Linked DNA regions of Homo sapiens: regions 1, 3 and 4 are each reported to be linked to region 2. The links are microRNA targets in miRTarBase. Many come from high-throughput screens and were not tested one by one. Region 2 holds a microRNA gene; each other region holds the end of a gene's coding sequence.

Evidence for each region. Region 2 holds the annotated microRNA hsa-miR-3157-5p (UUCAGCCAGGCUAGUGCAGUCU, at 2,695-2,716, shown strand). A microRNA usually pairs through its seed, bases 2 to 8, with sites in the 3' UTR of a target mRNA and lowers its output. Matches are read on the target gene's strand: a 7mer-m8 pairs with bases 2 to 8, a 7mer-A1 pairs with bases 2 to 7 and ends in A, and an 8mer does both.
Region 1: the mRNA of CAP1 is a reported target of hsa-miR-3157-5p. Seed matches in the 3' UTR shown: 7mer-A1 at 6,013-6,019.
Region 3: the mRNA of MTG2 is a reported target of hsa-miR-3157-5p. Seed matches in the 3' UTR shown: 7mer-A1 at 2,046-2,052.
Region 4: the mRNA of DIP2A is a reported target of hsa-miR-3157-5p. The part of its 3' UTR that is shown has no 7-base or 8-base seed match.

Annotation. Positions count from the first base shown.
Region 1 is chr1:40,070,588-40,077,707 of GRCh38, reverse strand. It overlaps CAP1 (cyclase associated actin cytoskeleton regulatory protein 1), which reads right to left. Exons shown (of 13, transcript NM_006367.4): 12 at 6,729-6,872; 13 at 5,060-6,258. The coding sequence ends at 6,175. PPT1 (palmitoyl-protein thioesterase 1) reads left to right here. Exons shown (of 9, transcript NM_000310.4): 8 at 795-866; 9 at 3,525-4,996. The coding sequence ends at 3,647. Among named protein-coding and RNA genes, the nearest start is that of PPT1, 23 kb to the left of the region's middle. RefSeq lists an enhancer at 6,670-7,120.
Region 2 is chr10:96,059,965-96,067,084 of GRCh38, reverse strand. MIR3157 (microRNA 3157) reads left to right here and starts at 2,686; the gene lies at 2,686-2,770. It overlaps CCNJ (cyclin J), which reads right to left. Exons shown (of 6, transcript NM_001134375.2): 6 at 6,215-7,120. The region is part of intron 2 of ENTPD1-AS1 (ENTPD1 antisense RNA 1); the gene reads left to right.
Region 3 is chr20:62,200,605-62,207,724 of GRCh38, forward strand. It overlaps MTG2 (mitochondrial ribosome associated GTPase 2), which reads left to right. Exons shown (of 7, transcript NM_015666.4): 7 at 79-2,964. The coding sequence ends at 473. Among named protein-coding and RNA genes, the nearest start is that of HRH3, 16 kb to the right of the region's middle.
Region 4 is chr21:46,566,972-46,574,091 of GRCh38, forward strand. DIP2A (disco interacting protein 2 homolog A) reads left to right here. Exons shown (of 38, transcript NM_015151.4): 38 at 399-3,044. The coding sequence ends at 651. Among named protein-coding and RNA genes, the nearest start is that of S100B, 35 kb to the right of the region's middle.

The DNA.
Region 1 (7,120 bases), not on the chromosome of region 2:
AAGCAGAATGTGATCGCTTTTTTAGAATCATCAGCCTCTGTTAAAACACTCATCACGTTATGTCACACCACCAGGGATTGGCCGATTGTGGCCCACAGGCCCAGTCCATCCTGCTACCCGTTTTGGTGCTACCCACGAGTAACACCAAACACTAACATAAAAGAATGTTTTTAACATTTTTTAATGGTTGGGGGAAAGAATTGGACATATAAAGATTATGTAAAATTTATTTAGACATATCAAGTATTTGGACATATAAAGATTATGTAAAATTTAAATTTCAGTGTCCTTATTGGAACAGTTTTAGTTACTTTTTACATACTGTCTGTGGCTGCATTTGTTACAGTGGCAGCAATGAGTAGTTACAACCATATGGCCCTTAAAGCCTAAAATATTTTGTATCTGGCCTTTACAAAAACGTTTGCTGACCTCTGTACTCAACAGTGAATTGTTTCCGTGCCTTGCAAGACTGGGAGCTTTTTGGAAACAGATTATGTATTCATCCTTGAATGTCTAGAGCTCAGCACAGGAATTTTTCACATTTATTGCTTAATAATTTTAGGAAGCAGAAATTCTGGGGAAGTGGAAAGCGGCCTCTCAGAAAGATTAACTCATCCCTCGGGCTCCACCCTTAAGAAGAGATGACTCAGACGCACCCTATCCATTTTTCCTTCTTCCTACAGCTTTATGATGTTCACTTTGTTGGCAGTTTTAGCTTCTAACCAGTCTCAAATTATTTTGGCAGTATGTGCTGTGTGTCATATCTGAGCTTCTTTCCTTTGCTTCTTCTGCAGTGGTTTGGATTTTACAGAAGTGGCCAAGCCAAGGAAACCATTCCCTTACAGGAGACCTCCCTGTACACACAGGTAACTGGCAGGGAGTCTATCTTGGGAGGTTGGTGTTTTTTCAGCTCCCAGTTCCTGAAGCTGCTATGTTCTTTGGTGCTGGAGCCCTTTCCTTTACACCTCAGAGCACTAGGTACTCCTGAAACACCTGACTCATGTCCAATATGGGTGAAGCTTGTTAGGCTCTTGATTATGTGCTCTAGCTTATTAGGCACTGGGTTACAAAAATCCACTACATCCTGAAACCTTATGGTTTCCAAACAACAAGAGAAACCTCATGTCTGATTCCCTTCTTTTGATAAAAAGGTTTTAAAACTAGCTGCCTTGGCTGAGGTACAGTCTGCTACAAATCCAGGAAGCCTCCATGCATGATGAGGGGCATTCCTTTTTTTTTCTTTGAGACGGGGTCTCGCTCTGTCACCCAGGCTGGAGTGCAGTGGAGCAATCTTGGCTCACTGCAACCCCTGCCTCCCAGATTCAAGCAATTCTCCTGCCTCAGCCCCCTTAGTAGCTGGGATTACAGGTGTGTGCCATCACACCTGGCTAATTTTTGTATTTTTAGGAGAGATGGAGTTTCACCATGTTGGCCAGGCTGGTCTTGAACTCCTGACCTCAGGTGATCCACCCACCTCAGCCTCCCAAAGTGCTGGGATTACAGGCGTGAGCCAGTGCGCCTGGCCAAGGGACATTACTTTTAAACATTAATAGATGTGAAATCCTGTTTCTAAATTACGCACTGACAAGGGAGGCTCCTGCAGGAGGTTGAGTGGGACTAGAGTTTTGAATTTTGTTTAGCAGTAGGTCCTGTATCTTAAGCAGAAGTTGCAGTAATTTGCCACCTCCAGTTCTGGGGCCTTCTACACTTTAAGGATTTTTTTTTTTTTTTTTTTTTTTTTTTTTTTTTGAGACAGTCTTGCTTTGTCACCCAGGCTGGAGTGCAATGGTGTGATCTCAGCTCACTGCAGCCTCCACCTCCTGGGTTCAAGCGATTATCCTGCCTCAGCCTCACTAGTAGCTGGGATTACAGGCACACGCCACCATGCCTAATACTTTGTTTTGTTAGTAGAGACGGGGTTTCACCATGTTGGCCAGGCTGGTCTTCAACTCCTGACCTCAGGTGATCCACCTGCCTCAGCCTTCAAGAGTGCTGGGATTACAGGTGTGAGCCACCACGCCCAGCCCTAAGGATTTTATATTGGAGACAGACTCTCCAAAATGCTAAGTACTACATCTGAACCAATCACCGTCTACTAGAATTCCTCCATGTTATTTCAGAGGTCATTTGTCTCCTCTTGGCTTGGCTTTTCTTTTGCACTGGGTGCCTCAACTTGGGTGGTGAGGTAAAAAGGGAAGCTAGAATCTGATTTGAGAAAAAAAAAAAAAAAGGCTTGAGAAATTACAGCTAAGAACTTCCTTACTGTGAAAACTCAAAATGATGTTGGCCACGGCAGAAGCACCATTCTGGCACTGTCGTAACTGCTTATCTTCCCAACCAGAGGTTGTTCTCCAGCATCTAGGCTATGGGTAATGACATTTTCAACTCCAGAATATGAAAGTGTCCAGGGTTTGTTACCTAACGGTTGGATATGGTTTTTCTGTTTTGTTCTTTTGAGACAGTTTTGCTCATTGCCCAGGCTGGAGTGCAATGGCATGATCTCAGCTCACTGCAACCTCCGCCTCCCGGGTTCAAGCGAATTCTCCTGTCTCAGCCTCCCAAGTAGCTAGGATTACAGGTGCCCGCCACCATGCCCAGCTAATTTTTGTATTTTTAGTAGAGACAAAGTGTCATCATATTGGTCAGGCTGGTCTTGAACTCCTGACCACAGGTGATCCGCCTGCCTTGGCCATCCAAAGTGCTGGGATTATAGGCGTGAGCCACCGCGCCTGTCCTGGGTTGGATGTTTTTTAAGTTACCTAGCTAATGTTCTGTCTTTGGCTCAGTCCCACTTACCTATGGCATTCTGAGGCAGTGTCGTCTATGGCTTGCCCACCTATAGGTAGTCCTCTGACTCTGAGCTTTTCAAAAATCAGAATCTAGAACACTGTATAGAGCAATCTCAATTGCATATCTATTTTTAATACTTAGAAAAAACTGGCCGGGTGTGGTGGCTCACGCCTGTAATCCCAGCACTTTGGGAGGCCGAGGCACGTGGATCACCTGAGGTCAGGAGATCAAGACCATCCTAGCTAACACAGTGAAACCCCATCTCTACTAAAAATACAAGAAATTACCCAGGCATGGTGGCATGCGCCTGTAATTCCAGCTACTCATGAGGCAGAGGCAGGAGAATCGCTTGAGCCAGAGAAGTGGAGGTTGCAGTGAGCCGAGATCGCACCACTGCACTCCAGCCTAAGCAACCGAGCAAGACTCCGTCTTGAAAGAAAGAAAGAGAAAGAGAGACAGAGAGAGAGAGAGGAAGAAGAAGAAGAAGCGGGGGGGACAGGAGGAGGGGGAGGAGAGAAGAAAGAAAAGAAAGGAAGAAAGAGAAAGAAAGAAAAAGAAAAAAGAGAAAGAAAAAGAAGTAGGAGATATTCTTTTTGGCATTTTTGAAAATACACCTCAATTTTAATACTCAGGACAAACTGCATTTTGAAAATATATCTCAAGTTAACGTACTTACCATTTTACTCCAAAACTTCATTAAGCTTTTTAATTAATTATGGCCTTTCCTTCTGCAGGACCGCCTGGGGCTAAAGGAAATGGACAATGCAGGACAGCTAGTGTTTCTGGCTACAGAAGGGGACCATCTTCAGTTGTCTGAAGAATGGTTTTATGCCCACATCATACCATTCCTTGGATGAAACCCGTATAGTTCACAATAGAGCTCAGGGAGCCCCTAACTCTTCCAAACCACATGGGAGACAGTTTCCTTCATGCCCAAGCCTGAGCTCAGATCCAGCTTGCAACTAATCCTTCTATCATCTAACATGCCCTACTTGGAAAGATCTAAGATCTGAATCTTATCCTTTGCCATCTTCTGTTACCATATGGTGTTGAATGCAAGTTTAATTACCATGGAGATTGTTTTACAAACTTTTGATGTGGTCAAGTTCAGTTTTAGAAAAGGGAGTCTGTTCCAGATCAGTGCCAGAACTGTGCCCAGGCCCAAAGGAGACAACTAACTAAAGTAGTGAGATAGATTCTAAGGGCAAACATTTTTCCAAGTCTTGCCATATTTCAAGCAAAGAGGTGCCCAGGCCTGAGGTACTCACATAAATGCTTTGTTTTGCTGGTGATTTAACCAGTGCTTGGAAAAATCTTGCTTGGCTATTTCTGCATCATTTCTTAAGGCTGCCTTCCTCTCTCAGTACGTTGCCCTCTGTGCTATCATCTTATCATCAATTATTAGACAAATCCCACTGGCCTACAGTCTTGCTTCTGCAGCACCCACTTTGTCTCCTCAGGTAGTGATGAATTAGTTGCTGTCACAAAAGGAGGGAAGTAGCACCCAAATTAAGTTGCTTAAGAGAGGAAATGTACATCTTGTATAACTTAGGGAGCGAAGAAAATGTAGGCGCGAAAGTGAAAAGTGAGGCAGCTAGTTCTTCCTATTCCATTCTCGACCAACCTGCCCTTTCTTAATATGACTAGTGGTCTTGATGCTAGAGTCAACTTACTCTGTTGCTGGCTTTAGCAGAGAATAGGAGGAACCATATGAAAAAGATCAGGCTTTCTGACTTCCATCCCCAAAACACATTTACCAGCATACTCCAAACTGTTTCTGATGTGTTCCATGAGAAAAGGATTGTTTGCTCAAAAAGCTTGGAAAATACTACACACTCCCTTTCTCCTTCTGGAGATCAACCCACATTAGAGTGTCTAAGGACTCCTGAGAATTCCTGTTACAGTAAACAAAACTAACGTAATCTACCATTTCCTACACTATTTGAGCATGGAAATCATAGTCCCCACTCTGTGAAAACTTAACGCTTTTTGGAAGACATTTCTGTAGCATGTCAGTTTGGAGAAATGATGAGCTACGCCTTGATGAAAGAACCGTGTTGGTGCTGCTAAGTTTAGCCATTATGGTTTTTCCTTTCTCTCTCTTAAGCCTTATTCTTCAACTAAAAGATGAGGATTAAGAGCAAGAAGTTGGGGGGGATGTGAAAATAATTTTATGAGGTTGTCTAAAATAAAGAGTAGTTTCTTATCCTTGGTGTTTTCAGTATTTTTTGCATTTCTGTACAGCCAATATCACAGGTAAACAACTAAGCAAGTTTGGTATTAACTTTATTCTATTTTCTGTATAACTTTAAGTACATAAAGGTTTATTTCCACAGGCCTCAGGAAATGGGTAGAAATCACAGGACAATCTCTCTTCCCACCAAAAAAAAGTTGCATATTTTGGTAAGTGTTTGTCCTAGAGGGAAAAACAACTGAAATTTACATTAGCAGTGCTGTGCAAGATTCTTACATAATTCAAGACCTAAAACCAGCCTGCAGTGGAGGTTTCAGTCCTCTGTTCAGGTGCTTAGACAGAAGCCATAAGCTGATGAGCATGACAGGGAAAAGGAGGCAGTGAAGACAGGTGACAGGCACCTGGCAGGGAAGAAGGATTCAGGAATGCCAGACTCCTTGAAATCATGTGGGTTTTTTTTTTTTTTTTTTTCCTTTTAAAGTCATCTCTATAGGAAGGTGCTGGGCAGGGATCCCAGAGAAAGAAAGGGTCCAAGACTCCATTAACTGCCCTGGATGAAGGGCACTGCTACAGCAGCTAGTACCAGAGACTCTCCTATCTCACGGTTGAGGCAGACCCAGGATAGAATAGAGAATAAAAGGAATGCTTATAGGAAACAATTTTGTATGGAATGCTAGATGGCCAAGCCTCAGCCTTTGGTCCAGTGCAACCCTTGCCTCGCTTGTCAACAGTGAAAAATTAGTTTGGTTAGAAGAACCATCTGGAAACACACCAGCTTCTGCTACCTTCATGCTCATTGTTAAAAAAAGATTAACCAGTGTGAACATTCTGATCTGTTAATTCCAGGGACTGTTTTCTTTCCAATGGACTGTTTGTTGGTAGAATAACCCCCAAAAGCTCAAAGCTAAAATGCATCATCAGTCCTAGTCGGCAGTTCCTTAAGAATGGACTGGCGGCGTGGTTGAGCTGATATGGAAAAGCTGCACCTTCCTGCAGAAGATCAACTGACCTGCTATCCCACCCCAAATTTCAGCCTGAGGTATATTTCAGTGAAGGCAGGTAGCTGTGCTTCTCAGAGCAGAGAAGCAGTTTTAAGAGCAAAAAGGTAGAGGAAATCTAGAAAAGAACCGTCTTGATACAGATTTATCCCATGGTGTGAAGGGAGGGCAAAGAACCCAGTGGCACTTCGCTTATCCAGCAATTTCTGTCACTGTGGTGACCAACTTCTGCCCGTTCCATAGGGTCTTGAACTGCTCAGGAACTGGGAATTCATTCTGCAAATAAAGAAGAGACAGCAGGTTTAAATCTGAGCTAAAGAACAGCTGGGGCTAAATCTCACACATTTCTCCCAATGCTTGCTTCCACTTAACCCCAGGAGCACGGTACAATGTAGCAAGAGACAAACCCACAGAGCCATGCTATGTTCTAGTGTTCAGCGATCTTGGACAGACTATTAAGTCTATGGGGTGTAAATAACAGTACATATGGCTTTATAGCACCAGCCTGACAAGGTGCCATGGCTCATCCCCATTATTTTTTGCTACCTTGAGCTCCACTTAGGCAGAAAGCACCTACCTTTGGGGCTCCACTACATGGGACTACCTCATTTCTGTGTACTTTTGGTGTGCATTATTGGGTTTTTACCTGCTCAGTGCAGAATGTTCATAAAATAGCTTTCTTCAATGCCAGAAATCTTCAGTCCCTTCTGTTTTTAACATCATACTAAAGAGATCAAGAAACTTACAAAGTCACCGCCTTCTGTAGGAATGAGGACATTCATCTCGGAAGATTTGGCACTGACTATTTCACAATCCAGGGAATTCTTGCTCAGGTAAGCATGGCAGCCATCTGTTTTGTTGATGGATATGGTTGGCACTTTACCCATTACCTGCAGAGTAAACAAAGAGAACTGAGTCCCAGTGGTTGGGAAGGACAACAGTAAGTCGCAGGAAAAGGTTTCCTGTTTCACGTGACTCAGCAACTACATGAAAAGCTCACAGATGCGCAAGACACTGGATACTCGGGTGGGTTGGGATGGGTCCTGAAAAGAACTTGCTTGAAGAGCCAACCCTTCTTCTGCCACGTCCAAAGCAGCTCAGCTTACAGACTTTGTAGAATCAGATTCCCACCAAAGCA
Region 2 (7,120 bases):
GGTAATTTAAAAAAATTACCTTGTTAGAGTATGTTAAATTTATAGATTAAGGACAATTGACATCTTTATAAAGTTTACACTTTCTATAAAAGTATATGGTATGCCTTGTGCAACTTTCTTTTGTGTCATAAGTATTTTAGAGTTTTCTTTATGTAGATCTTGTGCATGTGTTGTATTTATTGCCATTTTGTCTTATTTTGGTGGCCATTATAATTGAGTATATCTTGCATTAAATCTAATTGGTTGTTGTTTGTATATATGAGAGCTATTTTAATTGTGTAGCCAGCCAATTTACTAAATTTCCTTATCACGTGTGATAGTTTTTCAGTTGATTACCTTGCATTTCCAGGTATACATTGATTCTGCAAATAGTTGTAATTTTACCTCCTCCTTCCCAATGTTTAAACTGTATTTTATTTTCTCTTGTTTAGTTGTATTGCATGTATAGGTAGGTATTAGTTTTTTTCTTTTTCCCTTTTATAATTCATTTTTACTGCTTTTGTCTTATTTCTTTCCTCCTGCTTTTGTTTGGTTTCTTGTTCTTAGACTTTTTCAGTTGGATGTTAATTTTATTCTGAGCATTGCTTTAGTTTTATCCCAGAGCTCATGATACGTAGAATTTTTGTTACAAGTGATTTTCTAGATAATTTGAAATTTCAGTTTCGATTTCTTATTTGACCTAAAGATTATTTGAGTTCTTTGGTCCTATTACATATTTCTTTTTAGTCACATTTTCATCAGAATATGTCTTCTGTAGTAATTCTACTTTTTGGAATTGTTGCAGTTTTTTGGTGGATTAATACATAGTCAAGTTTTGTAAAACCTCACATTAGAGTTTGATATTATCCAAGAAAACTTACAGAAATATAGTCAGTTATTAGTATACTGTTGTGTAAAGTGAAATCCAGTAATGGATTGACCTCATCTAACAAAGGCAAAAGTGGAAGTGTTTTTGCAGTTTGGAAACCATGAATTTTATTTTCTCTAGATAAGCTGCAGATTAGCTGGTAGCTAGCAAAGAGGCCAGTAAGGATATTCTGATCTCAGGCACCTAGATGGGTCAACAAAGAAAGCAATTTCAGTTATCTAAGGACTCTTTAGAAGACAGAATTTTGCTGTTGGCATGCGTGACAGGCTATCTCTGTACATCTGGCGGTGTACTTTGTTTTCTCTGCCGTCTTTGTTATTCCAGGTCTGCACCATTTCCTTCTCAGAATATCTAATATGTGTCCATTAGATGAACCATAATGGTGTGTTAGGGTTTTGTATATCCTTGCTTTTTTTTTTTTTAATGTTACTGATCTGTCATGGACTTAGAGAAATAAATTAGTTTCTTACCTACCATCTTTTTTTTTTTTTTTGAGACGGAGTCTTGCTCTGTCACCCAGGCTGGAGTGCAGTGGCGCCATCTCGGCTCACTGCAAGCTCCGCCTCCTGGAGCTTTCTCCTGCTTCAGCCTCTGGAGTAGCTGGGACTACAGGCGCCCGCCACCACACCCGGCTAACTTTTTGTATTTTTGGTAGAGACGGAGTTTCACCGTGTTAGCCAGGATGGTCTCGATCTCCTGACCTCGTGATTCGCCCGCCTCGGCCTCCCAAAGTGCTGGGATTACAGGCGTGAGCCACTGCACCCTGCCCCATGTTTTTCTTTTATTTCTCTGTAAAACCTTTATAGTTTGTGCATAATATTGCTACAGTTATTTGATCCAGAAGTATTAATAACTTCATCCTTATCATGAACTGTAACCTTTAGCATTATAAAGTGCCCTTTTTAAAATTTGGTTTAATACATTTTGGCCAAAATTCAGCCTTGTCTGTTATTAAGATCTTGATCCTTGCTTTTTGTTTGAGTTTTTCTGGTATCTCTACTTTTTCGTTGATCTTCAACCTTTCTTAATCATTTTATTTTAGACCTGTCTCTCATACAACATAGATTTGAGTTTCACTTTGTGATTCAGTCTGAAGTTCTTTTTCCCTTAATAGTTGAGTTTGTTTTCATTTATTGATTTGATATGTTTGGACTTAGTTCTGTCAGATTATTTTGTTATACTTTTGCTATTTATACCTTTAAAGTATAGTTTACTATATGGAAAGTTTGCTTTGTTTTATTCCTTCTTTTCATAATTAGAAAGCTTTGTGTTTTTGTTCCTGTAGTTAACTTTGTAATACAGATTGTATAATCAGTATTTCTGTTTTCTATTTAGCCAGTATCTCAGTATCTGTAATTCACTTTTATAAGTAATAACAGAATTAGTATATTTCCTTTCCTTTATTCTATCCCTCAATTCTATCAATTTTGTTTTCTTTCTTAGGGTTTACCTTTGTACCATTAAATATCCATGTACCATTCTTACTCAATTTGTCATTATTGCAGAAAGCTTTCTGACTCCCATCTTCTCTTACTAACCTACCCTGATACTGTCAGATCATTCTTCCTAAAACCACCATTTTCTAAAATCATTATTCTTTCTAAAACCAATCTTCCTAAAATCATCATTCTTCCTAAAATCACCAGTATCATATCACAAATCCTCAGCGATATCTCTGACCCCACAAAGTCTGTATTCTCTTCTGGCTTTCAAAACTCCGTAACTCAACCTCATTCTACTCACTCAACTTTATTTCCTCTACAACTTCTCAATGAGTCTGCCCTCACTGTCCAACAATTGAGCTGAGAATATAAGAAGGGAAGGGCTTCAGCCAGGCTAGTGCAGTCTGCTTTGTGCCAACACTGGGGTGATGACTGCCCTAGTCTAGCTGAAGCTTTTCCCTTCTTTCTACACCCAGCTCAAGTCCCAGGTCCATAAAACCTTTAGAAACTCTTCAGAAACTCTTTAGAGCTTCAGAAGCTCTTGAGAATTGGAAGATGTTTACACCCAAGTTCAAGGATTACTTCCATCCCATTTCTGGTCTATGTCAGGGGCCTCTGTTAACTAGGAACTCAGGAACTCTCAAAGCAGCACTACTCTGTTTGTAACATTCTGGCTTATTATTCATTGAAATGTGAGAAACTTTGGACCACTGACTTAATTCTGCCCTTTGCAGTAATAGGACTTCTCACATCTGGGAAGACAAGCATTTTACCTTTCCTTAGGCTTCCCCAGGTGAAAACACCACCAGTTCCTTCAGTTGTTACTCATATAACATGATTCCTGGACCCATCACCAGCTTGTGGCAAAACTTGGGTTTATCACCATTCCACTTAAAATTCAGTTCACAAGATTTTTGTAGATACGATCTAACCAGTGCTGAATCTGATGGGACTGTGCCTTCCTATGATCAGAGTACTCTACTTTTTAAATCAACCCAAGGCAGCATTTGTTTATTAGTCACTGCCTACTTTTACACTGCATTTTTGTTGTTGTTGTTTTGAGACAGGGTCTCACTTTGTCACCCAGGCTGGAGTATAGTGGCACAAACATGGCTCACTGCAGCCTCGACCTCCTGGGCTCAAGCAGTCCTCCTGCTTCAGCCCCACAAGTAGCTGAGACTACAGGCACACACCACCACGCCCAGCTAGTTTTTTTATTTTTTGTAGAGATGGGGTTTTGCCATGTTGGCCAGGCTGGTCTTGAACTCCTGAGCTCAAGTGATCCACCCACCTTGGCCTCCAGAAGTGCTGGCATTACTGGTGTGAGCCACCGTGCTGGCCAATTTTTTGTTACCTACATCCCAAGAGCCTATGATGTGCTATCATACATCAGATCCCTATCACACACAGGGGCGTAAGATGAGTAAGACAAAATCCCTGCTCTCAAGAAACATATGTTCATTCTATGAAATACCTAACCACGGATTTTCAGAACTGTCGAGGTCATCACAGACAAAGTCTGAGTAACTGTCACAACCCAGAGTTGCCTAAGACCTGAGTGCTAAAGGTAATGTGATATCCTGCATAGGAATCTGGGAGAGAAAAAGGATATTAGGGAAAAACTAAGGAAATTTGAATAAAGCATGGATTTCTGTTAGTAATAGTACATCAGTACTGGTGCATTGTGACAAATGTACCATCTCAATATATTAATAAGAAGAGAGACTGGCTGTGGGCTATATGGGGACTCTGTGTACTATCTTAGTAATAATTCTGTACATCTAAGCTGTTCTAAAATTAAAAATCTTAAGAAAAAAAAAGGACAGCCTGGGTAACATGGCAAACCCCCACCTCTACAAAAAATTGTAAAAATGAGCCAGGCATGTGGTGGTGTATGCCTACGATCCTAGCTACTCAGGAGGCTGAAGTGGGAGAATTTTTTGAGCCCAGGAGGTCGAGGCTGCAGTGGGCCATAATGGCAACACTGCGCTCCAGCCTGGCAGACAGAGGGAAGATATGTTTGACATAGTTTAGATATTTGTCCCCACCCAAATCCATGTTGAAATGTAATCCCCAATGTTGGAGGTGGGGCCTAGTGGGAGGTGTTTGTCATGGGGGCGGATCCCTCATGGCTTGGTGCTGTCCTTGTGATAGTGAGTTCACTTCATGTGAGATCTGGTTAAAGTGTGTGGCACCTTCGCCTACCCCCACTTGTTCCCACCAAGTGAGATTCCTGCTCCTGCTTACCCTTCTGCCATGTTTCTTGAGGCCTCCCAGAAGCCAAGCAGATGCCAGCTCCATGCTCCCTGTACAGCCTACAGAAGCATGAGCCAGTTAAACCTCTCTTCTTTATAAATTACCCAGTCCTGAGTATTTCTTTATAGCAATGCGAGAACGGCCTAACACAAGGTTCTAGTAGGGAGAAACTAGCAAGTAAATGGATACAAGACAGTCACTCTTACATTTTTAATTACAGGTCCCTTTGAGTAGACAAAACTTTAAGAATAGGGGAAATCATTTACATATAAATTGCATACCATGTCAAGGCTTCATGGACTTAAGAACTAATAAATTCAGGGTGGTGATGCTTACCTGGGAGGCAGAGGGTGTTATGGGAGGAAACAGAGTGGTAGTCAGGCAAGGATAGGATAGCAGGTGTCCTTCCCATATGATCCCTGAGCCTGGTCCTTATGCTGTCAACTGACTGTACTTGCTACTTTAAAATCTAAGGGATTGAAAAATGAATGTTGAGTGATTCCTAAACTAACACGATATTAAACCGAGTTCCAGACTACACCAGCCTAATTTTATTTAGTGGCAGACTCTAGCTCTGTTGCCCAGGCTGGAGTGCAGTGGTGTGATCTCAGCTTATTGCAGTCTCCACCTCCTGAGTTCAAGTGATTCCTGTGCCTCAGTCTCCCAAGTAGCTGGGACTACAGGTACGTGCCACCACACCCAGCTAGTTTTTGTACTTTTAGTAGAGACAGGGTTTCACCATGTTGCCCAGGCTGGCTTCAAACTCCTGGCCTCAAGTGATCCACTGGCCTCAGCCACCCAAAATGCTGGGATTACAGGCATGAGCCACCGTGCGGGCCTCTACTAGCCTAATTGCTGCAAGTGTGCTAGTCGTATTTATCAAACTAGATGTAAGCTGCTTGAGGCTAGGGAGGCTTTTACCACGTGCCTGAGAGGCAGTTGTTGGTTATAAACTTGCCACATGGGGCTCAGATCACCTCAAGGCAAAGCTACCTGGCCTGGTTTGGAATGCTTTTTCTTTTTCTTAAAGTCAGCCCTAAAGAACATGGTATATTAACTCTTGAGGGCTGCTAAACCCTGGCACTGTGCCAGAACAAGTGACAATACGATAGTTTTGAGACTAATTTCAAAAATGTTTTTTAAAAAGGCAGTGTAAATTCCTAACCCGCTTGTACAAACCTGTTAAATTTTACTTTTCAAAACAAATTCCATCTGCTAAGGTTTGAGTTGAATTAAGTAGCAAATGATATTTATACTCAGGTAAATAGACCATTCTCACTCACTGTAGACCCTATATTCCTTCTCATAGCTTTAACCATTTTCTGTGTCCCTACTTTTGACATCAAACTTCAGATTTTCTGATGCTTGCATGATTGTTGAATAAATTAGAATCTGTAGTTGCTAACATACTAACAACTGATTTTAAGCTCAAAAAGGCAACAGTGGTGTCCAATATACTTTTGTGGGCTTTAATGCTCAGTATGGAATACGCAATGAACGGATGTTTTATGCCACTAATGGCTATATTCTACATCTTGATGGCTTTTAGTAAATAAAATCATGATTCCAAGTCTGAATTACATGATGAGATGGTTCACTAGAGCTGCAAATATACAAGTTTGTATTTAAAACAAAAATACCGAAGCCATTTTACTGAAAACTAGTTTTATTTTAAAATTAAGTGCATAGCACTCATCTAATTCCATTGGTGTAGACTTTAGCACCATACTTGCTATTTGCAATTAATGTCGTAACACAGATACATTTTGGTTTGCAGTCTGTACTTGAGTAGTGTTTATTTAGTGGACTTTGGTAAAGCCCTTCATACATATTAATCTCTTCACAGTACACATTTAATGATGGTCCAGTATTCTCAAAAAAAAAAAAAAAAGCCTACTTTAAAGACTAATCAATAAATTAAACAAAACAAAACCCACACAATGTTCCCCCACCCCCCAAAGCTAGCAGTTGTGAGTTGTATTTATATTGAAACCTAATGTTTTAAAAATAGTTCTGGTTCTCCAACCACCCCATCCCACCCCGGGTATGCAGCAATAGTAATCAATTATTTTATTCTACCCTCCCAAAAGATTATTAATCCAGTGTTCTTTAGCTTTTTAAAATATAAATTGGGAAAGTGTTATTAATAAGCTTTTTTAAAAGGCATATTCTTCTATAACAAGAATGGCATATAAACCAATCAATAAAAGTATTTGACAAGACATTAAGTTACCACAGGCACTGGCTGTTGTTTCAAGTTGGGATCTCTATCCCAATATCTTACATTCATAGCATTATTGAGGTAGTTAAAATACTGAAAATTGGACTCCAGGTTGCTGGGTTCTGAATGTGAATGTGAAAGATATATTCTCTTTTGAGCCTACTTTCCCCCAAATAATTCAAGTTTTCTTGAGGTAAGAACTACCAAAATCCAATTAGCAGCCTTCTTTAAAAAGGAAAAGTGATGATACTTTCAGAAAACAATTTTCATGCTTAAAAACTGCCATGAGTGAGTGTTCTTACCTGAGTGGTTTTTCATTTTATCTACCAGACT
Region 3 (7,120 bases), not on the chromosome of region 2:
CCAGGCTCGAGGTGGAAGGCGCTCTTGGGTGCTGGGTGTGCCAAGTGGTCACCTCGTGTGCCCCTGTCTTCCCTGCAGTGGCCGACATCCCCGGCATCATACGAGGCGCCCACCAGAACAGGGGTCTGGGGTCCGCCTTCCTCAGGCACATCGAGCGCTGCCGCTTTCTCTTGTTCGTGGTGGATCTTTCTCAGCCTGAGCCGTGGACTCAAGTTGACGATTTAAAATATGAACTGGAGATGTATGAAAAGGGCCTGTCTGCGAGGCCCCACGCAATCGTCGCAAACAAGATTGACCTCCCTGAAGCCCAAGCCAATCTGTCCCAGCTCCGGGATCACTTGGGACAGGAGGTCATCGTGCTGTCGGCGTTGACCGGCGAGAACCTGGAGCAGCTGCTGTTGCACCTGAAGGTGCTGTATGACGCCTACGCGGAGGCCGAGCTGGGCCAGGGCCGCCAGCCGCTCAGGTGGTAGCCACGCCAGAGCGGGGTCGCCTCTGGGCCTCTGTCTGAGCAAACCTGGGTGTGAATTCGGTGGTTTTGAATGCATAAAGTGCCTTGTGGACACGGGGGAGTTGTGGTGCTTCTGGGTCTCTGGGCCCCGCCTGCTGGCCTGAGATGCCCTCATGTTGGGAAGCATTCCGTGCCCCCTACCCCGCCTGCCCTCCGTATTTCCTGCACCTGTCAGCCTGCACCGACTGATGAGCCAGTTGCTCATTTGTGCTGATTAACACCCCTAATAAGGGGTTGGGGTGCCCATAACGGGGTGGCCCTGCCGCTGACTCAGGTCTCCGCCATGCACGCGTGGACTCTCGGATGAGCTCAGCAGAACCGCACAGCCAGAGCCCCAGGTCAGAAGTGCAGACCAGGGTTCTCAGCACAGTGCCCGTCGTGCTTCCATGGCTTGCTACGGAGAGAGACCTCTGGATCCACACTGGGGCTGCGTCTGGCCCGTTGTCCAGCAGCCCTGCGGTACCGCAAGCCCAGGCACCAGTGTCTCGGGGGGCCTCACTGCTGCGCAAGGGGTGGGGCCGAGGATGCAAGTCCAGGCAGAGCGGCGCAGGCAGCTGTGAGCTTTTCTCCATCAGCCGTCTGAGAAGAGCAGTGAGGCCAGCTGCTTCCTGTCCTTCAGAACACTTCTCTGTGCTCAGTGGGAGCCAGGAAGCCTCAGGCTTCACGACTGAATGCACCCAATATCCGACCTGGCTGCGTGTTTCTGGCTGGGCTGCCGTGTGCACAGCAAGTTAACTAGAGGGGCTGTGGGCCATGGAACTGTCAGCGTTATTCTCAGAAGGCGGCCGTGGCATGGGCAGGGTATAGTGAGGAGTGGAAGGAGACGTGTGCCTGGTAATATGGGGCGGAATTTCCACTCAGCTCCATTTGCTGGGGATTTAAAGAGAACCCTTGTGCTACGCCAGGCAGTTACCGAGCCGAAGGGAGATGATGGGCCTTCGCCCCTCAGTGGGATGGCAGCTGAGGGGGCCCTGCATTTGACCGTCGAGACTGCAGCAGCGCCTTTCCTGTCTGTGGTTTAAGTCTTTGCAGTCAAGTACTGATGCATCCAAGCCAGGCCCATGCCTGGTGTCTCCCTGACTGCAGAGGAGCCCCAGGGCAAGGACAGCTCAGCTGCTGGCAGCCTGCCTGGCCCATAGACATCCCCCAAGTAGTCTCAGGCCTCTGACATGTCCCTGAGGGGCCCCTAAGAAAGAAAGTGGAGGGGACACTCCAGAGGCTGTCGTGGGAGGATCATGTGAGCCTGGGAGGTCAAGGCTGCAGTGAGCCGTGATTGCACCACTGCACTCCAGCCTGAGTGACAGAGCGAGACCCTGTCTCAAAAAACAAACAAACAAACAAACAAAAACAGAACATTCTGGGCACGGTGGCTCATGCCTGTAGTCCCAGCACTTTGGGAGGCCGAGGCTGGTGGATCACAAGGTCAGGAGATTGAGACCATCCTGGCTAACACAGTGAAACCCCGTCTCTACTAAAAATACAAAAAAATTAGCCAGGCGTGGTGGCGGTCACCTGTAGTCCCAGCTACTCGGGAGGCTGAAGCAGGAGAATGGCGTGAACCTGGGAGGCGGAGCTTGCAGTGAGCCGAGATCACACCACTGCACTCCAGCCTGAGCGACAGAGCAAGACTCCATCTCAAAAAAAAAAAAAAAGTGGAGGGGACAAAGAAGCAGAGAAGGATGATCAGAAGGGGACCCCCAGCCCTTGGAGGAGAGACGGCAGCCTCAGGTGAGATGAGCCGCAAGGGTCCGGGGCCGCGTCTCTGCACGCTGGGGTGGGGCGCGCTTTGCACAGCAGGCCGGTGCCTGGGCTTTCAGGAGCAATTCCGTTTTGATCTCACATCAAATCTGCAGCTAGAACATGACAGTCCTTTTACCCGAAGCTTTATTTTAATGTCTTATAATTTCAAAGGTCCTTCTATCCTAGAAACCAGAGATGGGTTTTGCATCTATTTGCTTTTTCTTTCAGGCCGCCACAAAGGATTTTGTGGAGTCGCCCCAGGCCTGACGGCGTTAATTATCCCTGGCTTTCATCTTGATGCTCTTGCAGGGGAGGCTCAAGATGCCTTGTGGCTCGACCCCTGCACGGAGCCCCCAGCCCAGCCTCCCCGTGGGTTGAAACCTTGATCTGGGCCTGACTGTGGCTGCTCTGGGGACATGCCCTCGTCCTTTGCTGAAGCTGAGGCTCCAGAGGGGGAGTCACTGCCACGAAGGTTGCCCAGAACTTTCCTTGCTGCAAAAAGCCCCAAGACTTCTCCCTGCCACACACACAGCTTTTGCCATCGCGTTCTAAAAGCTGACAGCTTTCTCTCCAACACTGTTCTCCCTGAGTAGGGTAAAGCTACACTTGGCTTCCCCAGTTTCCTGTTTCCTGCCTAGAAACAAATTTTTGTCAGTCTGCTTTTCAAATGGGATATATGATTCACATACCATAAAATTCACCACTTTATATAATTCAGTGGTTTTTTTGTATGTTCAGAAGGTTGTGCAACTGTCAAACTGCAAATTCCAGAACGTTTTCATCACCCCGAAAACAGACCCTGTGCCCGTTAGCGTGAACCCGCCTTCCCCCTCCCCCGGGCACCCACCCGTCTACCTTCTGTCCCCAGGGACCTGCCTTCCAGACAGATCCTGTAATTGGAGTGTACACTATGTGGCCGTCTGTGCGGGTCTTTAGTAGCCATGCCTGAGGCGGCCGACACCGCAGTCTTTAGTTACGGAAGGGACCGCGGGTGCAGGCCAACCCCCCCACAGTCAGCATGTGTGGGCTGCCTTGGACACAGGGTCTCTGTGTATCCCCAGCAGCCTCAGAACACCTGACCCAGAGACGGCGTCAGTAAGCGCTGGCAGGTGCACGGAGGATGGCGCTGGCATGAGGAGCCTTCAGGCTGCTCCTAGTTTTAAACTATTTTTACTTTTGTTTTTATTTTTTTAAGACAGAGTCTCACTCTTTCGCCCAGGCTAGAGTGCAGTGGTGCGATCTCGGCTCACTGCAACCTCTGCCTCCTGGGTTCAAGCGATTCTCCTGCCTTAGCCTCCCAAGTAGCTGGGATTACAGCCTGCACCACCACGCCTGGCTGATTTTTGTATTTTTAGTAGAGACAAGGTTTCACCATGTTGGCCAGGCTGGTCTCGAACCCCTGACCTCAGGTGATCTGCCCACTTTGGCCTCCCAAAGTGCCGGGATTACCGGCATGAGCCACTGCGCCTGGCCTGAAACTCAGTGTGTGTGTGTGTGTGTGTGTGTGTGTGTGTGTGTGTGTGTGTGTGTGTGTGTGAGAGAGAGAGAGAGAGAGAGAGAGAGAGAGAGAGAGATGGAGTCTCACTCTGTCACCCAGGCTGGAGTGCAGTGGCGCGATCTCCACTCACTGCAACCTCCGACTCCTGGGTTCAAGCAGTTCTCCTGCCGCAGCCCAGGTGGGGTGGAGTCTGGGTGCCCTGGGGCCCTGCCACCTTCCACTTGGACACGGGCGAGGAGGGGTTTGCCCTGAGCATCCCCTGTAGAAGCCCAGCTCCACAGCAGCGCTGTAGGAAAACGTAGTGTGTCCATTTGAAAATGAAGTTTTATCTATTCCTTATTAGTCTCCTGGGGCTGCTATGACAAAGTGCCACAAACCGGGTGACTTAACAGAAGTTGGCCGAGCATGGGGGCTTACACCTGTCATCTAGCGCTGTGGGAGGCCGAGGCGGCCGGATCACCTGGGGTCAGGAGTTTAGGACCAGCCTGGCCAACATGGTGAAACCCCATCTCTACTAAAAAATATGTAAAAATTAGCTAGGGGTGGTGGCCCATACCTGTAGTCCCAGCTACCCAGGAGGCTGAGGCAGGAGAATCGCTTGAACCCCTGATCACTTGAGCCAAGATTGCGCCACTGCACTCCATCCTGGGCGACACAGTGAGACTCTGTCTCAAGAAAAAAAAAAAAAAAAAACAAAAAAAACCTAAGTGGATTCTCTTGTTTGTCGGGGGTGAGGCCTCTCAAGGCCAGGGAGGTCCTTCCTGCTCCATCCTCGGCTAGCAGTGGCAAAGGCTCCCGTCCCTGCCCTGTCTTCATGTAACTTCCCCCTGTGTGTCTGTCCTCTTATCTTCTGGAAGCCAGTTGTGGGATTTGGGCCTCTCTAAACCCAGGATGGTCCCATCTTGAGATCTTTAGTTACATTTGCACAGACCCCATTTCCAATAGTGATATTCTGAGGTTCTGTGGATGTGGATTTGGGGGCACGTTGTTTGACCCCAAGCAATGTCCCTTTCCATCTTTTTTTTTGGCGGCGGTGGGGGTGGTGCAGAGTCTTGCTCTGTCATGCAGGCTGGAGTGCAGTGGCGCGATTTTGGCTCACTGCAACCTCCACCTCCCAGGTTCAAGCGATTCTCCTGCCTCAGCCTTCTGAATAGCTAGGATTACAGAAATGTACCACCATGCCCAGCTAATTTTCGTATTTTTAGTAGAGCCAGGGTTTCACCATGTTGGCCAGGCTGGTCCCGAGCTCCTGAGCTCAGGCGATTTGCCCGCCTCAGCCTCCCACAGTGCTGGGACTGCAGGTGTGAGCCTCCACTCCCAGCCTCCCTTCCCATCTTGTGGTCGTGTGTGCTTCCCGGCGCACGTGCTATACTGAGTTCAGTCTCGCGTGGGGCCTTTGCCTCCTCACCTCGCCAGCACAGCAGCTCTGCCCTCGGGTCCACCCCAGGTCCCGCCATGCCTGTCACCTCCACCCCGCTCTGGACGATGGCAGTGGCCTGCTAATGTCTCCCCTACTTGGTGCCCGGGCCCCTCAGTCTTCCCCTGTGGCTGTGCCAGGAAGCCAGGCCCCTCACTGGGAGTCCCTGGTGCCCACAGCACCAGCCCCACTGCCCCTTCCTATGTCTGAGCCATGCTGAGGCCACTCCTTGGACTGCAGGCTTTGGTGTTGCTGATCCCTGTGACCCAGTGCCCTGCCCAGACACCCCGTGAAATGCCCTCTAGTCAAAAAGCCAAAGACAGCCACACGCGCCCAGGCTCTGCACAGTTGGGCCCACCACCCTCTCGTGCACGCACTTTCCACACTTCACGTTAGCCGCCGTCGCCCCCCCGCCCTAAGCTCCTGGAGAACAGAGACCTCGTTTGTCTGTATGCAGTGCCCGGGTCGGCGCTGGCCCCGGGATGGAGGCCTGAAGGGCAGACATGCTGAGGCAACCGGAGCGTCTCATCAGTGAACACACGTGCCGGGGACCTGTCCTGGTGCCGCTAAAGAGGCTGCAGAGCCGCGGGGTGCGGCAGTGCTTGGCGGGGGCGGGGTGCAGCTCTGCGTGCATGGCGTCCACCTGGGGACCGCAGGTGTCAAGCCGGGGAGAGCCAGTGCCAGGAGGTCACACACGATGGTTCCCTCTACAGAGTGTTCCAGAAACGATGAGGAGAATGGATTGGCGGTCCTCGGGCTGAGGAGGGCGGGAGGGTGGAGGTAGCCGTGGACACAAAAGGGCCATGCCAGGGTCCTCAGACCATCACCCTGTGTGTTGGCGGTGGGGCCACGAGTCTGCACGTGCGAAAGAATCCTGTTGGCTTAGTGTTTCAGGCTGGGAAGATGACCGGCTCTGAAGGTGGAGGGTGGTGATGGGAGAGCCACTGAACCGCACACTTCAGATAGCTCAAGTGGTGAACTTTATGTTTATCACCACGATAAAAAATATGACATAGGCCGGGCGCGGTGGCTCACGCCTGTAATCCCAGCACTTTGGGAGGCCGAGGTGGGCGGATCATGAGGTCAGGAGATCGAGACCATCCTGGCTAACACAGTGAAACCCCGTCTCTACTAAAAATACAAAAAAATTAGCTGGGTGTGGTGGCAGGCACCTGTGGTCCCAGCTATGCAGGAGGCTGAGTTTGCAGTGAGCCGAGATCGTGCCACTGCACTCCAGCCTGGGCGACAGAGCAAGACTCTGGCTCAAAAAAAAAAAAAATTTATATATATATATATATATATATATATATGACATAAAACTAAACATGCCACACACACACGAGTGCAGGGGAGTGGGAACCTGCGTGCGGCGATGGCGTGTGTCCTGCGTGCGGCGATGGCGTGTGTTGTGGTCTTAGAGGGTGGCTCACCCAAGCTTCCCTGTGGGGGAAGCCGATAAAGGGCACGTGGGGTCTCTGTAGTGTTGCACCCAACAGCATGGAATCTACAACAATCTCGAAAGAGGAAAAGTCAAGGCGTCGGGAGCCCACTGCCCTCTGGCGAGCTCCTGGAGGCTCCATGGAATGTTCGGGCTGCAACCACCCCAGCCCTCCTGGGACTGTCCCCTCCTGGTGCTCTTGCTCAATCTCTGCTAGAAGAAGACAGCGTGAGGTCAGCTGAAAACAAAAGCAAACTTTTCTGCAGGCTGCACACCCGTTGGTGTTAGAATTTTGCAGGAAACATCCCTCCTGGGCTTTGCCGCTGCCGAGGATCCTGGATCTGGGGACATCTCTAGCAGCACCGCCAGGAAGAGGCCGTACAGAGGACGCACGGCAGGCCCAACCCTGCCTGCTGTTCGAATAATTCATATTCTTACTGCCAGGACTGGCTCCACCAACAGCCCTACCCCCAGGCCAGGGTCTCCACTTCTGAAAGGAGCCAGACAGTCAGAGAG
Region 4 (7,120 bases), not on the chromosome of region 2:
TTTTTTATCTGTTTCCTTATCAGTGGTAAGCTAAGAGATTGTCCCCAAATGCACAGGCAAAATGTAGATTTCCACAGGTCTCATCCTGAAGTGTTTCTACTTTTAATATGAGTTTCTCACATGGTTGTGACTCCTGATTCCTTCACCTGTAGGGAACTTGTGTTGGGACAGGTACAGCTTTCAGCATCAGATAATGCTCTGATTCTCAGTAAAAGCTTTAGTTGGAATAGACATCCTGTAAAATGGATCTGGCCTGATCTTTAGATTGTAAATGGCCTTAAATAGCTGTGTGACATTGGTGGGCTTCACTCTTCTTTGTGCCACCCTTTCCCAAGCATTCATTGGCCCCTGTGACCTGTGCCTGTATCCATGTGACCCAGTCTGTCTTCTCTCTGCAGTGCCGTATTCACCTGGACCAACCTGCTGGTGGTGGTGGTGGAGCTGGATGGGCTAGAGCAGGATGCCCTGGACCTGGTGGCCCTGGTGACCAACGTGGTGCTGGAGGAGCACTACCTGGTCGTGGGAGTGGTGGTCATCGTGGACCCAGGGGTGATCCCTATCAACTCTCGGGGTGAGAAGCAGCGCATGCACCTGCGGGACGGCTTCCTGGCTGACCAGCTGGACCCCATCTATGTCGCCTACAACATGTGAGCGCAGCACACCGGCCCAGGTGCCGGAGATGAATGAGCCCCAGCAGTCCAAGGTGTGATGTGGGAAGACACCGCAGAGCTCACTCACCGGGACTCGCCCTTCCTGTGCTCTTACAGATCCCTCTCAACAATCCCCGCATCTCCTTTTAGAAAGCACTTCCTGAATTATTTAAAGAAATATTTTGAATCTGCCAAGTACATTTACAAAAACACGGATGCTGGTATTTTAACAGATGGAGAGACAAGGAAAGGAAAGGAAAGGCCTGGCATGGGCATTGTGAGGAATCACAGGCACCGAGGTTGTTCTCTGCTGTACTGCAAGTTTGCACTTTCTTTAGGCTAAAAATATAGTTCCTGATTTTTAAAATTCAGTTATTTATTCCCACTTCAAATGACAAGTTCATATATAGAATTTACGGGAGAAACTTGAGACCATTTACGGGGAGAAACTTGATTCTGGGAAGATAGCAGAGTACAAACCAGCTGCCTCACTTCTGTTTCACAGGGAGGCTGATGGAAAAAGGAAGCAAGCTGGACCCATCCTCCCTGCTCACAGAGGGCACTGTGGTCACACACAGTGCCTCCTCTGCCAGTTCCTTTATTGAAAGAGGTGTGCTGGCTGGCCACGGTGGCTTACACCTGTAATCCCAGCACTTTGGGAGGCCGAGGCGAGCAGATCACGAGGTCAGGAGACCGAGACCATCCTGGCTAACATGGTGAAACCCTGTCTCTACTAAAAATACAAAAAATTAGCCGGGTGTGGTGGTGGGCGCCTGTAGTCCCAGCTACTTGGGAGGCTGAGGCAGGAGAATGGTATGAACCAGGGAGGCGGAGCTTGCAGTGAGCCGAGATCACGCTACTGCACTCCAGCCTGGGTGACAGCACGAGATGCCGTCTTAAAAAAACAAAAAAGAGGTGTGCTGCTTGTCAGCATGTATTGTCACGGACACTCAATAAGTGCCATTTTGGACTGTCAAATTTAGATGCTTTGTTTCAGAAAGATAAGCCAGCATTTAGTTTTAAATCACTTTCCTGGTTTGTAACTTGATGCTGTTTAGTTAAATTGCTAGTTTTCCTAACACTACAATATTAATTCTTCTCGTGGAAGTGTACTGATTTATTATTTTTATTCCAAGTCAGCAGATTTGGAAGCATTGTGGTAAAGTCTAAGGTTTTCATATCCATAGTGCTGTTTGGTGAGTACCGGCAGTACAGTTGAGGGGAGCAGGGAACAGCATTGCCCCGTATTGAAGGTGGAGATGGTTACATTCTTCACTGCTTTTTGCATTTTGAGTTGTGTGCCTATAAAATTTGGCCAAACCATTTTATTATTTTGTTCAAACTTGACTAAGCTGAGTGATCTAAAATTATACAGAACCTAAATCAAAGAAGAGAATGTAAAGTCCTTTAGTTACTTCTAAGAATTTGAAGTCAAGCACGAATCTAAGACATAGATTATTTTTATATAGCTAATGAAGAGTATGTTACGAAATTGTTGGGTTTTTGGGGTATTGAGGGTGGCAAATTTTGTGAATCATGCATGCTTCACAGAAACAACCAGGTTTTTCCAGAATTAGTCTGGATCAGTGCCTAACAAAGCTGTTATTAATTCTCCACACATGAGTCTGGCTAACTGGGCCAGCTCTCATGTTTTACTCCTGTCTGGCTACAAATAGCACTGTGCATAGTAGCCCTGTTTCCCCATGGTGTTGGACTGTGGTAAAGTATGTTGTGACATACTGGAATTCTAATAATCCTGTTGTAAGTATGTACAGAATCTATGTAACTTATTGTTGACATACAGAGGTTTGGGAAGTAGTCTAATGGACATTCCTTACAATAGAATGGCTGGGAAGGGAAAGAAAAAAAAAAAAAAACTACCTAACTCCAATCTTAATGTTGTAGTTTTATAGCAAACAAAAATTGTCAGCTTTTTGTATTGAAAGGTCAGTGGTGGTAAGACAAGGTGTCTTGTAAATTAAGATTTTAAGAAGTGCATTAAAATGTTTTAGAATTACTCTGGGAATTCTGTATATCACACTAAAATTTTTATATCATTATGTTAATAAAAGTTATTGACTTTGTAATTCTGCATTTTGAAATGTGTGAAAAGGGTCTTTAAATTACCCCGAATAGGTTGTATCTTATTTTGCTTTTTTTCTGACTATAAAAGCAGTTATGCTTATAGCATAAAATCTAGAAAGCACATTAAAGTATAAAGAAAATTAAAATTTCTTATAATTCTACCTCTGAGTAAACAGCAGCATTCGTATGTAACATAAACCCTCTCAGGGATTTATTTTTTCTTTTTAAAAATTTTTTACAAAATTAGGATCAAGTGCTTTTTTAAATAATTTGCTTTTGTACTTAATAAATTATAGACTTTAAAATCTATTACATATATTCTTCTACATGTTTCAGTGGCTGTATTTTACAAGTGTGCCATGAGTAAATGTAGTATTTGCTGTATTGCCGTACATCAGCGTTGTTTCAACAGGACTGCAGTGAGCCCAGATGCACGTTTACACTGCCATGATTACAATTACTGCCTTGGGCTCAGTTCTTATAGGTAGAGTGAGTGGGTCAGAGTTCATGCCAGGTGTGAAGCTTTGGGTACCTGCTGCCCTCCAGAAGGGCAGGATGACAGCATGGAAAAGGCCTCTTTGCAGATGCCAAGTAATGTTGGCAATGGACATGTGCTCAAGATTAAAATAACTCTTTAACAATTTGATAGGCAAATAAGTGTTGTGTCTGGTCATGTTGAATATGTCCTCGTGTTCATGGCCATTTTTAGTTCTTATCTGATGTATTTTGTTCAGATTTGGCAGTCCTTATGGTCAAGTTTTTTCTTACTGACATGTAGGAGTCTCTTTCTATTAAGAATTATAACCTCCATATACTTCTTACTTTTTCTTGTGGGTTATTTGTATTTTGGTTCTATCTGTTTTGGTGCAGATGGTTTTTTAGATGTTATATTTATGCAAACTGGTTATTGTGTTTGATTTCAGATTATGAATATAGCTGATTTATTTCAAAGTGGTTCTACTGGAATGATCAGCATAAACCAATGGGGAGTACATGGCAGAGAAATAACTAACCTCCAGTATTTGCCTGGTTCCTGCCACAGTGCTGGCCTTCATGTTGGCAGTTCCAGAAGTGGGGTTGAGGGAGAGAGAGAATACTTGAAGAAATAATGGCTGAAGACTTCCTAAATTTGATGAAAGACCTGAATATAAGCATCCAAGTAGCTCAACAAATTCCAAGTAAGATGAACTCAAAGAGACCACACAGATACCAACATTTCAGAAGCCAAAGCCAGAGAATTTTGAAAGCAACAAGGGAGAAGCAACTTGCTACATACAAAGGATCCTCAGTAACAGGTCCCCAAGCCCTGGGCCACAGACTGTTAACAGTCTGTTAGGTACCAGACCACACAGCAAGAGGTGAGTGGTGGGTGAGTGAGCATTACCACCTGAGCTCTGCCTCCTGTCAGATCAGTGGTGACATTAGATTTTCATAGGCATGCAAGCCTTCTTATGAACTAACTGCACGTGCCAGGGATCGAGGTTGCACACTCCTTATAAGAATCTAATGCCTGATGATCTGAGGTGGGACAGTTCCATTCCAAAACCATCGTCCTGTGCCCCCTGGTCTGTGGAATAATTGTCTTCCACAAAACCAGTCGCTGGTGCCAAAAAGGTTGGGGACTGCTGCTCAATAAGATTATCAGCAGATTGCTCATCAGAAACTAGAGGCCAGAAGGTAGTGGGCCAATATATTGAAATTTAAAGTAGTTTTTTCTAATTCTGTGAAGAAAGTCAATGGTAGCTTGATGGGGATAGCATTGAATTTATAAATTATTTTGGGCAGTATGGCCATTTTCACGATATTGGTTCTTCCTATCCATGAACATGGGATGTTTTTCCATTTGTTTGCATCCTCTCCTATTCCCTTGTGCAGTGGTTTGTAGTTCTCCTTGAAGAGGTCCTTCACATCCCTTGTAAGTTGTATTCCTAGGTATTTCATTATCTTAGTAGCAATTGTGAATGGGAGTTCACTCATCATTTGGCTCTCTGTTTGTCTGTTATTGGTGTATAAGAATGCTTGTGATTTTTGCACATTGATTTTGTATCCTGAAACTTTGCCGAAGTTGCTTATCAGAGTAAGGAGATTTTGGGCTGAGATGATGGGGTTTTCTAAATATACAATCATGTCATCTGCAAACAGAGACAATTTGACTTCCTCTTTTCCTATTTGAATATGCTTTCTTTCTTTCTCTTGCCTGTTTGCCCTGACCAGAACTTCCAATACTATGTTGAGTAGGAGTGGTGAGAAAGAGCATCCTTGTCTTGTGCCGGTTTTCAAAGGGAATCCTTCCTAGTTTTTGCCCATTCAGTATGATACTGGCTGTGGGTTTGTCATAAATAGCTCTTATTATTTTGAGATATGGTCCACCAATACCTAGTTTATTGACAGGTTTTAGCTTTTAATAATAAAGTTTATAATGTAAAAAATAAAAAATTTTTAGAGAAAAAAGTTTATAAAGATGTCTAAAAATGTTTTGCACAGTTGTACAATGTGTTTTAAGCTAAATGTTTTTACAAAATAGCCAAAAACTTAAAAACATTTGAAAGTTTATAAAGTTACAGTAAGCTAAGGTTAATTTATTATTGAAGAAAAATTATGTTTAGTGTAGTCTAAGTGTACAATGTTTATAAAGTCTATAGTAGTGTACAGTAATGTCCTAGGCCTTCACATTCATTCACCACTTACACCCAAAATAACTTTGAGTTCTACCAGCTCCATTAATGGTAAGTACTTACTATGATTTGAGTGACCCCCAATGTGGCAGTATTAAGAGGTGGGGCCCTTAAGAGGTGATTGGATTAATCTATTCAAGGATTGATAGATTAATGGATTATCATGGGAATGGGGCTGATGGCTTTGTAAGAAGATGAAGACCTGAGCTAGCATGCTCAGCGCCCCCACCATATGATGCCCTGCACTACCTTGGGAGTCTGCAGAGAGTCCCTACCAGCAAGAAGACCCTGACCTGATGTGGCCCTCAACCTTGGACTTCTCAGCTGCTATAATTCTAAGAAATAAATTCATGTTTTTCTTATAATGTAGCCAATTTCAGGTGTTCTGTTATAAGCAACATACAATGGACTGAGTGCCCTGTACAAGTGTACTGATTTTAATCCTTTATACTGTATTTTTACTACCTTTTCTAAATTTGGACATGTGTTTAGATATACAAATACCAGTGCATTACAATTGCCTACAGTATTTTGTACAGTTACATGGTGGACAGGTTTGTAACCCAGGAGCAATAGGCTATATCATATAGCCTAGGTGTGTTGTAGGCTAGGTTTGTGTAGATACATATACACTGTATGTTGTTCCCCCAATGATGAAATCACCTAAAAACACATTTCTCAGAACATATTTCTGTTGTTAAGTAATGCATGGCTGTATGCACAAAAGGAAGTGAGAAAGGGATTTAAATGTTTCATTAAAAAAAAACACAGAAGGGCGCAATACAAGAAATGAAAGAGATATAAGGCATATAGAATATGAAGTGACAGAAGTAAGTCTCTCCTTATTGATAATTACTTTATCTGTAAATAGATTAAATGGACAGAGATTGGCAGAATGGGGAAAAAACAGGATCTAACTGTATGCTGTCTACAAGAGACTCACATCCAAAGACACAGTATTAATATATTGAGAGTGACAGGATGGAAAAATATATTCACTGGGCACAGTGGCTCATGTCTGTAATCCCAGCGCTTTGGGAGGCTGAGGCAGGTGGTTTTCTTGAGCCCAGGAATTTGAGACCAGCCTAGGCAACATGAAGAGACCACATCTCTACCAAAAAAATACAAAAATTAGCTGGGCATTGTGGCTTTCTCAGGAGGCTGAGGTGGGAATATTCCTTGAGCCTGATGGGTGGAGATTGCAGTGCACCAAGATCACAACACTGTACTCCAGCCTGGGAGACAGAGTAAGACCCTCTCTCACAAAAAAAAAAAAAAAAAAAAAAAAAAAAAAAAAAAAAAGATATTCCATGCAAATAGTAATCAACAGGGAGCAGAGGTAGCTATAATAATATAGTTTAAATAAAAAATGATTACAAGAAATGATGGACATTAATAAAAGATTCAATTCAGCAAGATGTAACAATTGTAAACATTTACACATACAATGACAGATCATCAAAATATATGAAATGAAAACTGACAATAGAAGGGAGAAAGGAGAAATAGACAGTTCTATAATAATAGTTGGAAATGTCAGTGCCCTGCTTTGAATAATGGATGGAACAATAAGACATAAGTAAGGAAATGGAGGCTTTAAACAGCACAACAAACTAACTAGATCTAACAGACATATGCAGAACATTCTACCCAACAATAAAAATAGAATACACATTCTTCTCAAGTTCACATGGAACATTTTCCAGGATA